Linked DNA regions of Homo sapiens. The protein of the gene in region 1 purifies or fractionates together with the protein of each later gene. This does not show direct contact. Each region holds a gene or a part of one and is shown on either strand. Other genes may lie near its edges.

The links. The genes of interacting proteins can lie anywhere in the genome.
Region 2: the proteins of CCNB2 (region 1) and CDK7 fractionate together in Homo sapiens (co-fractionation; one large-scale study listed by BioGRID). This does not show direct contact.

What each region holds. Positions count from the first base shown.
Region 1 is NC_000015.10:59,117,794-59,122,955, reverse strand, and holds part of CCNB2 (G2/mitotic-specific cyclin-B2), read right to left. Parts: intron 1-5,162. UniProt on the Homo sapiens protein: Essential for the control of the cell cycle at the G2/M (mitosis) transition.
Region 2 is NC_000005.10:69,237,886-69,241,385, reverse strand, and holds part of CDK7 (cyclin-dependent kinase 7), read right to left. Parts: intron 1-3,500. UniProt on the Homo sapiens protein: Serine/threonine kinase involved in cell cycle control and in RNA polymerase II-mediated RNA transcription. Cyclin-dependent kinases (CDKs) are activated by the binding to a cyclin and mediate the progression through the cell cycle.

The DNA of each region.
Region 1 (5,162 bases):
AGAGAACTTAGACACTACCACACCAAGCCTTGTGACCTAGCCTCCCAAAGAGTAAAATTCAAGTAAAAGAACAGCTGTCAATTGATAATAAGATGTATCATGTAAGAAGATATATAAATTGGCGGGGCACAGTGGCTCACGCCTATAATCCCAGCACTTTCGGAGGCCAAGGCAAGAAGATCGCTTGAGCTTAAGAGTTTCAGACCAGCTTGGGTAACATTGGGAGACCCTATCTCTATGAAAAATGAAAAATTAGCCAAGCTTGGTGGTGTACACCTATAGTCCCAGTTACTTGAGGAGCTGAGGAGGAAGGATTGCTTGAGCCCAGAAGTTTGAGGTAATGAGCGATATTAACGCCATTGCACTCCAGCCTGGGCAACACAGTGAGACCCTGTCTCAAAAAAAAAAGAAAAAAAAAGAAAAAAAAAAAAGGCCAGGCGCAGTGGCTCACGCCTGTAATCCCAACACTTTGGGAGGCCGAGGTGGGCGGATCACCTGAGGTCAGGAGTTCGAGACCAGCCTGACCAACATGGTGAAACCCCATCTCTACTAAAAATACATAAATTCCCCGGGCATGGTGGTGTGCGCCTGAGGCAGGAGAATCGCTGGAACCCGGGAGGCAGAGGCTGCAGTGAGCTGAGATCGCACCACTGCACTCCAGTCTGGGTGACAGAGAAAGACTCTGTCTCAAAAAAAAAAAAAAAAAAAAAAAAAGATATGTCAACTGACTTTATTTAAGAGTTCTGTGACAAAAATTCTAAAAGCGAAAGTACGTTTTTTTCATATGCATGGTATAATTGGCAAAATAAACCACAATTTAATCTCTTTTTTTCTTTGAAGACCGGGTCTCAACTCTGTTGCCCAGGCTGGAGTGCAGTGGCACTATCAAAGCTCACTGCAGCCGTGACATCCTGGGCTCAAGTGATCCTCCCACCTCAACCTCCCTAGTAGCTGAAACTATAGGTGTATGCCACCATGCCTGGGTAATTTCTCCTTTTTTTTTTTTTTTTTTTTTTTTTTTTTTGAGACAGAGTCTCATTCTGTCGCCCAGGCTGGAGTGCAGTGGTGCAATGTCTGCTCACTGCAACGTCTACCTTCCGGGTTTAGGCAATTCTCGTGTCTCAGCCTCCTGGGTAGCTGAGACTACAGGCATGTGCCACCACGCCCAGCTAATTTTTGTATTTTTAATAGAGACAGAGTTTTACCATGTTGGCTAGGCTGGTCTCAAACTCCTGGCCTCAAGTGATCCACCCGCCTCAGCCTCCCAAAGTGCTGGGACTACAGGCATGAGCCACTGCGCCCAGCCAGTTTCTCTGTTTTTTTGTGGAGGCGAGGTTTCGCCATGTTGCCCAGCTGGTCTCAAACTGCTGGGCTCAAGCAATCTGTCTGCCTCAGCCTCCAAAACTGCTGAAACTACAGGTGTGAGCCACTGTGCCCAGTCTACACAATTTAATCCTAAAATACTTTGAAGGGAAGAAAGAGGAAACGAGTAAAAACTGAAATAATGCACAATTTCTAGCCTTTTGAAATAAATTCTCAGAAAACTGGGAGAGCGAAGCACATTTAAGAGTAAGGTGACTAAAAATGAGCCATTGGTACCATGTACCAGTGACATTTTTGCCTCAAATGTTTTATTTATTTCAAAAAATTCCAAATCTACAGAAAAACTGAAAGAATGATCCTCTATATATCCTTCATGTAGACTGATCAATCATGAACATGTGCCACGTTTCCCTCCTCTCCCTCTCTGTGTATACTCACACACAATTTTTGCTATGCCATTTGAAAGCGATTTGCAGATATCACAGCACATCCCTGCTAAATGTTTCAGAAGCATATTCTAAAAAGTACGTTTTCGTACCTATCCATAACACCATTCTCACATAAGAAACACTGTCACCAGTGACTTTTTTTTTTTAAGCATCGAGGCAGTTCCTTTTAAAATGTCTCACATTCTGGATTTGCATATTTCCTCAAGATTTAATTCATGTCAAACATTTTGGGCATGAATAGGTGATAATGTATACATCTTACTGCACAACACGGCATGGCAACTCAGGTCGTCTGCCAGTGGTAATGCTGAGCTTAATCACTGGGTGAAGGTGGAAACCACCAGACCACTTCATCATAGATGTGCAGTTTTGTTACAGAATTAATAAGTATCTATGGGATGATAAATTGAGACCACGTGAATCTTGTTTCCCAAAATTATTCCATCTAATGATTTTTGCATTCATTGATGCACCTTGCTTGAATAAATTATTACATTACAGGTTGAAAATTAGTGGTTTCTAACTCTATCATTCTACTTTAATTAGCTGGTATTCTGATTTTTAAAAATGAACCCCTCTTTTATTTTTTATGTCATTATGGTCCCAGGAATCCTTTTTTTTATACACTATAATCTATTACTGTCATTATTCTTTTTAATGCTCTAATTCAGTCAGCCAGAGTCCTTTCAAGCCAGTTCCTATCTCCCTCCTTCCCTTCCTTCCTATTTTATTGTGGTGCAATCATAGGTCAATGCAGCCTCCAACTCCTGGGCTCAAGGGATCCTGCCTCAGCCTCCTGAGTATCTGGGACTATAGGCACATGCTACCATGACCAGCTCTCCTATGTCCTTTTGATGTGACCTCATTGATCTTTGAGAATTTGTGTGCTATCTGGCACAAATTGTTCTAGGCTCACCTTGTACTTCCCCTGCCATAGCCCTGAAATCAGCAATTTCACTAAACAGCCCTAGTTGCCAGTAGATAATGGTATTTAGTATCCAAGATGTGGGCACTAAATATGCTCACTACTACTGAGTTGTCACTGTTTCTGAGACCCTTTATTATGAATTTGCTGTTATTTCCAAAACATAATAGGGGTTTTCCTTTGTTTTTGTTTTGCTATTTCCTACGTGAGGACTAACCTTTTGTTTTTAATTGTTAATATTTTCTCTCTTAGGCCAGGCACAGTGGCTCACGTCTGTAATCCCAGCACTTTGGGAGGCCAAGGCGAGAAGATCACTTGAGCCTAGGAGTTCGAGACCAGCCTGGGCAACACAGGGAGAGCTAATCTCTACAAAAAAACTTTAAAATTAGCCAGGCATGATGGCGTGTGGCTGGGTCCCAGTTACGTGGGAGGCTGAAGTGGGAGGATCACTTGAGCCCAGGCAATTGAGGCTGCAGTGAGCTGTGACAGCAGCACTGCACTCCAGCCTGGATGACAAAGCAAGACCCTGTATAAGAAAAAATTAATGAATTAATAATTTAAAACTCTTCCTATATTGAAAATTTTAGTCCTTAATAACATGAATAAATTTGTTTTATCCTACAATACACATAAACTAGTTCCAAAATTATAATAACAGATTACTATTAACAATGAACCTACTAAGTAAACTTGATGTTACCACTTTAGTCCTTTATTTTGTCATACTTTAAATCCCACTAAGGATGCACAGTCAGAATGCTGTGTTCAGGTTACAGATTTGTTTTTTTTTTTTTTTTTGGAGACAGGGTTTTGCTCTGTTGCCCAGGTTGGAGTGCACTGGCAGGATCATAGCTACTTCAGCCTTGAACTCCTGGGCTCAAGCAATCCTCCTGCCTCAGCCTCCTGAGTAACTAGGACTACAGGTGTGTGCCACCATACCCAGCTAATTTTTTAATTTTTTATAGAGATGGGGGTCTTGCTACGCTACCCAGGCTGGGCTCAAGCAACAAGTACTTAAATTAATTCTTTCCTCTGTGTTCTGTTACCAATTTCACATGTAGTTACATTGTTTATTTCCACTTAATTACAATTTAAAGTTTGCATAAAATATTTACATTGTTCAAAAGTCAAAAAAGTTACACTGTATTATAAAGTCAATAAAAGGTTACAATCAGAAGTCCTCTCATCCTCAACCTCCACCCTATTCCCAAAGAACCCCATAGTTTCCACTTTCATTCTTTCTGGTTTATTCCTCCCGTACCAAAAAATTAACAAATATATAAATATATATACATACACACACTTTCTTGCATAAAATGTAAACTACAATATACATTGTTTAGGTGAACAGCTCCACCATGCTGCCCTGGTGACCTTGCCTATATCCATATAGGCCACACAGGCCAAGGCCTGAACCACAGCTGATCTGTCCTGGCAAAATGCTTTGTGATCCTCCTGAAAAAGGAGGAGATGGCAGGTGTGGGCAGAGCTGCCGCCCAGCCATCTCCCACTCACCTCCCTATCTCCCCTGGGAGGCTGTCACGAGACAACTTCTTCTTTTTTATATTTTTTTTGGAGACAGAGTCTCGCCCTGTCCGCCAGGCTGGAGTGCAGTAGCACGATCTTGGCTCAAAGCAACTTTTGTCTTCCGGGTTCAAGTGATTCTTATGCCTAGGCCTCCAGAGTAGCCTGGATTACAGGCAGCTGCCACCATGCCTGGCTAATTTTTGTATTTTTAGTAGAGACGGGGGTTTTGCCATGTTGGCCAGGCTGGTCTCAAACTCCTGACCTCAGGTGATCTGTCCACCTTGGCTTCCCAAAGTGCTGGGATTACTGGCATGGCACCCGGCCAAGACAGCTTCGTATCCCCTAGGTTCTGATGAGGTTTTCTATTGTACTGCTCTCAGGGTATAACTGCAGACTAGAAGACTGTTTAGCGGTGGTCTAGAACTGGCTTCTCCACAACAGTGTACCTGTGACTTGCATTGCAGCCATCCAGCTCCATTTGTTTCCACATTATCCTTTTTGCCATGTGAAACAAAGACCCGAGGAGCTGCCATCCTTGGCTACTCTTCTAAATCTACAAGTGGCTCATTCTATTCTTACTGGCTAAATCAGTCAGGCCTTGGCCTTCCTTTGTCTTGTGTGCTTGACAACTTGCTTGTTTCACTTAACGTAATATCTAAGAAATCATACATGTCAGTTCTTAGTGGCCTTCCTCATTCTGTACAACTCTATACTGCACACATGCACCTTAGTATGTATAGTCAACTCACTTCTATGTGAACTGTTCCAAGCAGCTTGCTTGCTTTCTTTCCCAAGAGACAAGGGTCTCTCTGTGTTCCCCAGGATAGACTTGAACTCCTGGGCCTGGGCTCAAATGATCCTCCTCCCTCAGCCTCCCAAGTAGCTAGAACTACAAGCACAAGCCCCCATGCCCCTCTCCAAGTAGTTTTCCTTTAGGA
Region 2 (3,500 bases), on another chromosome or scaffold:
TTGCGCCACTGCACTCCAGCCTGGGTGACAGAGCAAGACTCCGTCTCAAAAAAAAAAAAAAAAAAAAAAAAGAAAAAACCTACAATGAGAGAGCATCTCACCTAAGTTTAAATGGCTTTTATCCAAAAGATAAGGATGAATCCTGGTGAGGGATGTGGAGAAAAGGGAACCCTAGGTACATTGTTGGTGGGAATGTAAATTAGTACAACCACTATGGAGGACAGTTTGGAGGTTCCTCAAAAAACTAAAAATAGAACTATCATTTGATCTAGCAATTCCATTGCTATGTATATATGCCAACAGAATCTGTATGTCCAAGAGATATCTGAACTCCCATGTTTATTGCAGCACTATTCAGAATAGCCAAGATTTGGAGGCAATCTATGCGTCTGTCAACAAATGAATGAATAAAGAAAATGTGGTGCATATACACAAAGAGTACCATTCAAAAATAAAAGAGGCCAGGTGCGGTGGCTCACACCTGTAATCCCAGCACTTTGGGAGGCCAAGGCAGGCAGATCACTTGAGGTCAGGAGATAGAGACCATCCTGGTCAACATGGAAACCCCGTCTCTACTAAAAATACAAAAAATTAGCTGGGTGTGGTGGCATGTGTCTGTAATCCCAGCTACTCGGGAGGCTGAGGCAGGAGAACTGCTTGAACCTGGGAGGCGGGGGTTGCAGTGAGCCGAGATCGCGCCATTGCACTCCAGCCTGGCGACAGAGGGAGACTCCGTCTCAAAAAAGGAAGGAGCTAAGAACAGTTGATTTTAAAATTCTTAACATTTTCCCACATAATAAAAAATAGAGTAATTTCATAAAGCCCTCTACTCCATCACCCAGATTCAACAGTGACCAATATTTTGCCACACTTACTTCATTCATCCAACCTCTCCTTTTTGTTGCCTAAAATATTTTAAAACCCCAGACTTCATGTCATTTCACTCCAACGTACTTAAGTAAGCATCTCTAAAATACAGACATTCTTACATAACCATGCCATTTTGACACCTAACAAAATTAACAATAATGCCACAGTAGCATCTAATATCTAGTTCCTATTCAAATTTTCCTGATTCACATTTCCCAACTGTCTCATAGAGTAGCCAAAATGATTTTGAAGAAGAAAAACAAGGTGTATGGAAGTTGACAGATTTTAAGACTTCTTAAAGTCACTGTAATATTTCAACAGCAATGGGAAAAAAAACAAACAAACCCACCACTGGAACAGAATAGTGTGCCCAGAAATTGGACCCAAGTTCCAATACTGGAACTTGGTATTGCAAGGGTATGGGGAATTTGGCATTACAACTCATTGGGAAAAGGACAGACTATTAATAGTACTGGGACAACTGAAGAAAAAATACTCAATCTTAGCCAGGCACAGTGTCTCATGCCTGTAATCCAAGCACTTTGGGAGACTGAGGCAGGAGGATGGCTTGAGGCCAGGAGTTCAAGACCAGCCTGGCCAATATAGAAAGACCCTGTCTCTATTGAAAAAAAAAAAAAATACTGGATCCTCATATCATACAACAAAGGAAAAACTTGTTGATGGAATAAAGATCTAAGTATTAAAATCAATATTTTAAAAATTTTACAAGTACAGAATTCTTTGTAATCCAGAAACAGGAAAGCACATAAAAAGGAAGCCTTTAAAGATTTCAAAAAAATTAACAAATTCAATCATATTAAAATTTAACTTTCAGTACCTCAAAGATACCATAAATAAACTAAAAGCCTTGCCAAAGACTGGGAAATGATATATGCAATGTGTATTTCTGACAAAGGATCAATATCCAGAATATAAAAGAATTCTGGCTGGTTGCTGTGGTTCACACCTGTAATCCCAGCTCTTTGGGAGGCCGATGCTGGAGGATTGCTTAAGGCCAGGAGTTTGATACCAGACTGGACAACAAAGTGAAACCTTGTCTCTATTAAAAAAAACAAAAAGTATGAATAAGTCCAATAAATCAATAGGACAAAAAAAGTACGTAATCCAACAGAAAACAGGAGAAAATCTAAGAAGCCAGTAAGTGTAAGAAAAGATGATGAACTTTACCAGTAATCAGAGAAATGTTAATTGAAACAATAAGTACATACCATTTTCAATCTACGTAATTGACAAACGTTTTAAAGTCTGACAATGCAAATGATGTTGAGAATGTGGTGGGACAGTAAACTGGTCCAATCATTCTGGAGAGCAATTTGACCATATCTGGTAAAGCTGATGGTTGTGATACTCTGAAGCATCAATTCATAATTTGTTTCAATTATAGATACATTCTCTAGAGAAACTCAAACCTGCATACAAGATGACTCACAGATGACTATCCAGAGAAGGAATGTATTAAAGGAAAACATTAAAAAGCAGCCTAAATGTTTATCAACGAGAGTTTGGATAGAAAATTTCAGTGTAGTCATATAATGGAATCTAATAATCAACGAGCATGAATCAACTGGATCTACATGTATCATACGATATAGAGGATTTCGGAAATAATGTTGACTCAGAATAACAAGTTGCAGGCTGGGTGTGGTGGCTCAAGCCTGTAATCTCAGCACTTTGGGAGGCCGAGGTGGGCAGATCAGTTGAGGTCAGCAGTTGAGAGGCTGCGGCAGGAGAACTGCTTGAGCCTGGGGAGGTGGAGGTTGCAGTGAGCCGAGATCACGCCACTGCACTCCAGCCTGTGCGACAGAGTGGGACCTTGTCTCAAAAAAAAAAATAAAATAAAAAAAAAAGAATAACAAGTTGCAGAAGAATATGCCAAATATACATATATAGCTTAAAGTATGCAATACTGGCTGAGTACAGGGGCTCACACCTGTAATCTCAGCACTTTGGGAGGCTAAGGTGGAAGGTTCACTTGAGCCCAGGAGTTGAAGACCAGTCTAGTCAACAGAGTGAGACCCTGTCTCTACAAGAAGAACAACAAATTTAGTGGGGCACGGTGGCATGCACCTGTACTCCTAGCTGGTTGGGAGGCTGAAGCAGATGGAATGCTTGAGACCAGGAGGTCAAGGCTTCAGTGAGCTATGATTGTACCACTACACTCCAGCCAGGGAAACACACAGCAAGTTGCTGTCTCAAAAAAAAAAAAAAAGGAAAAAAAAAGTATGCAATACTATATATTGTTTTGAGATACACAGATTTAAGACACACACTGAAAAATGAGATATAACCCAAAAGGCCATCAATAGGTGATTGGTTAAATAAATTGGGAAACAAATTCCACATAATCTTTTTAAAAGGATGAGATACATCAGTATTTCTAAAGTCCAAGACTCAACAGGTGAATGAGTACAGAGTAACTTATTTATTGATTCCTTCCCTTTTTATAAAATTAAACACATCCTAGCAAATGAACGGGAGTAGAAATTATGAGTGTTGGAATAAGGTCTACAACACCAAATCCTCAATGTTCATAGTAGAAAGTATAGACAACGTCTAAAACTGGGGGAGAAAAAACACCTCAAGAAATAGGCCAGGCATAGTGACTCACA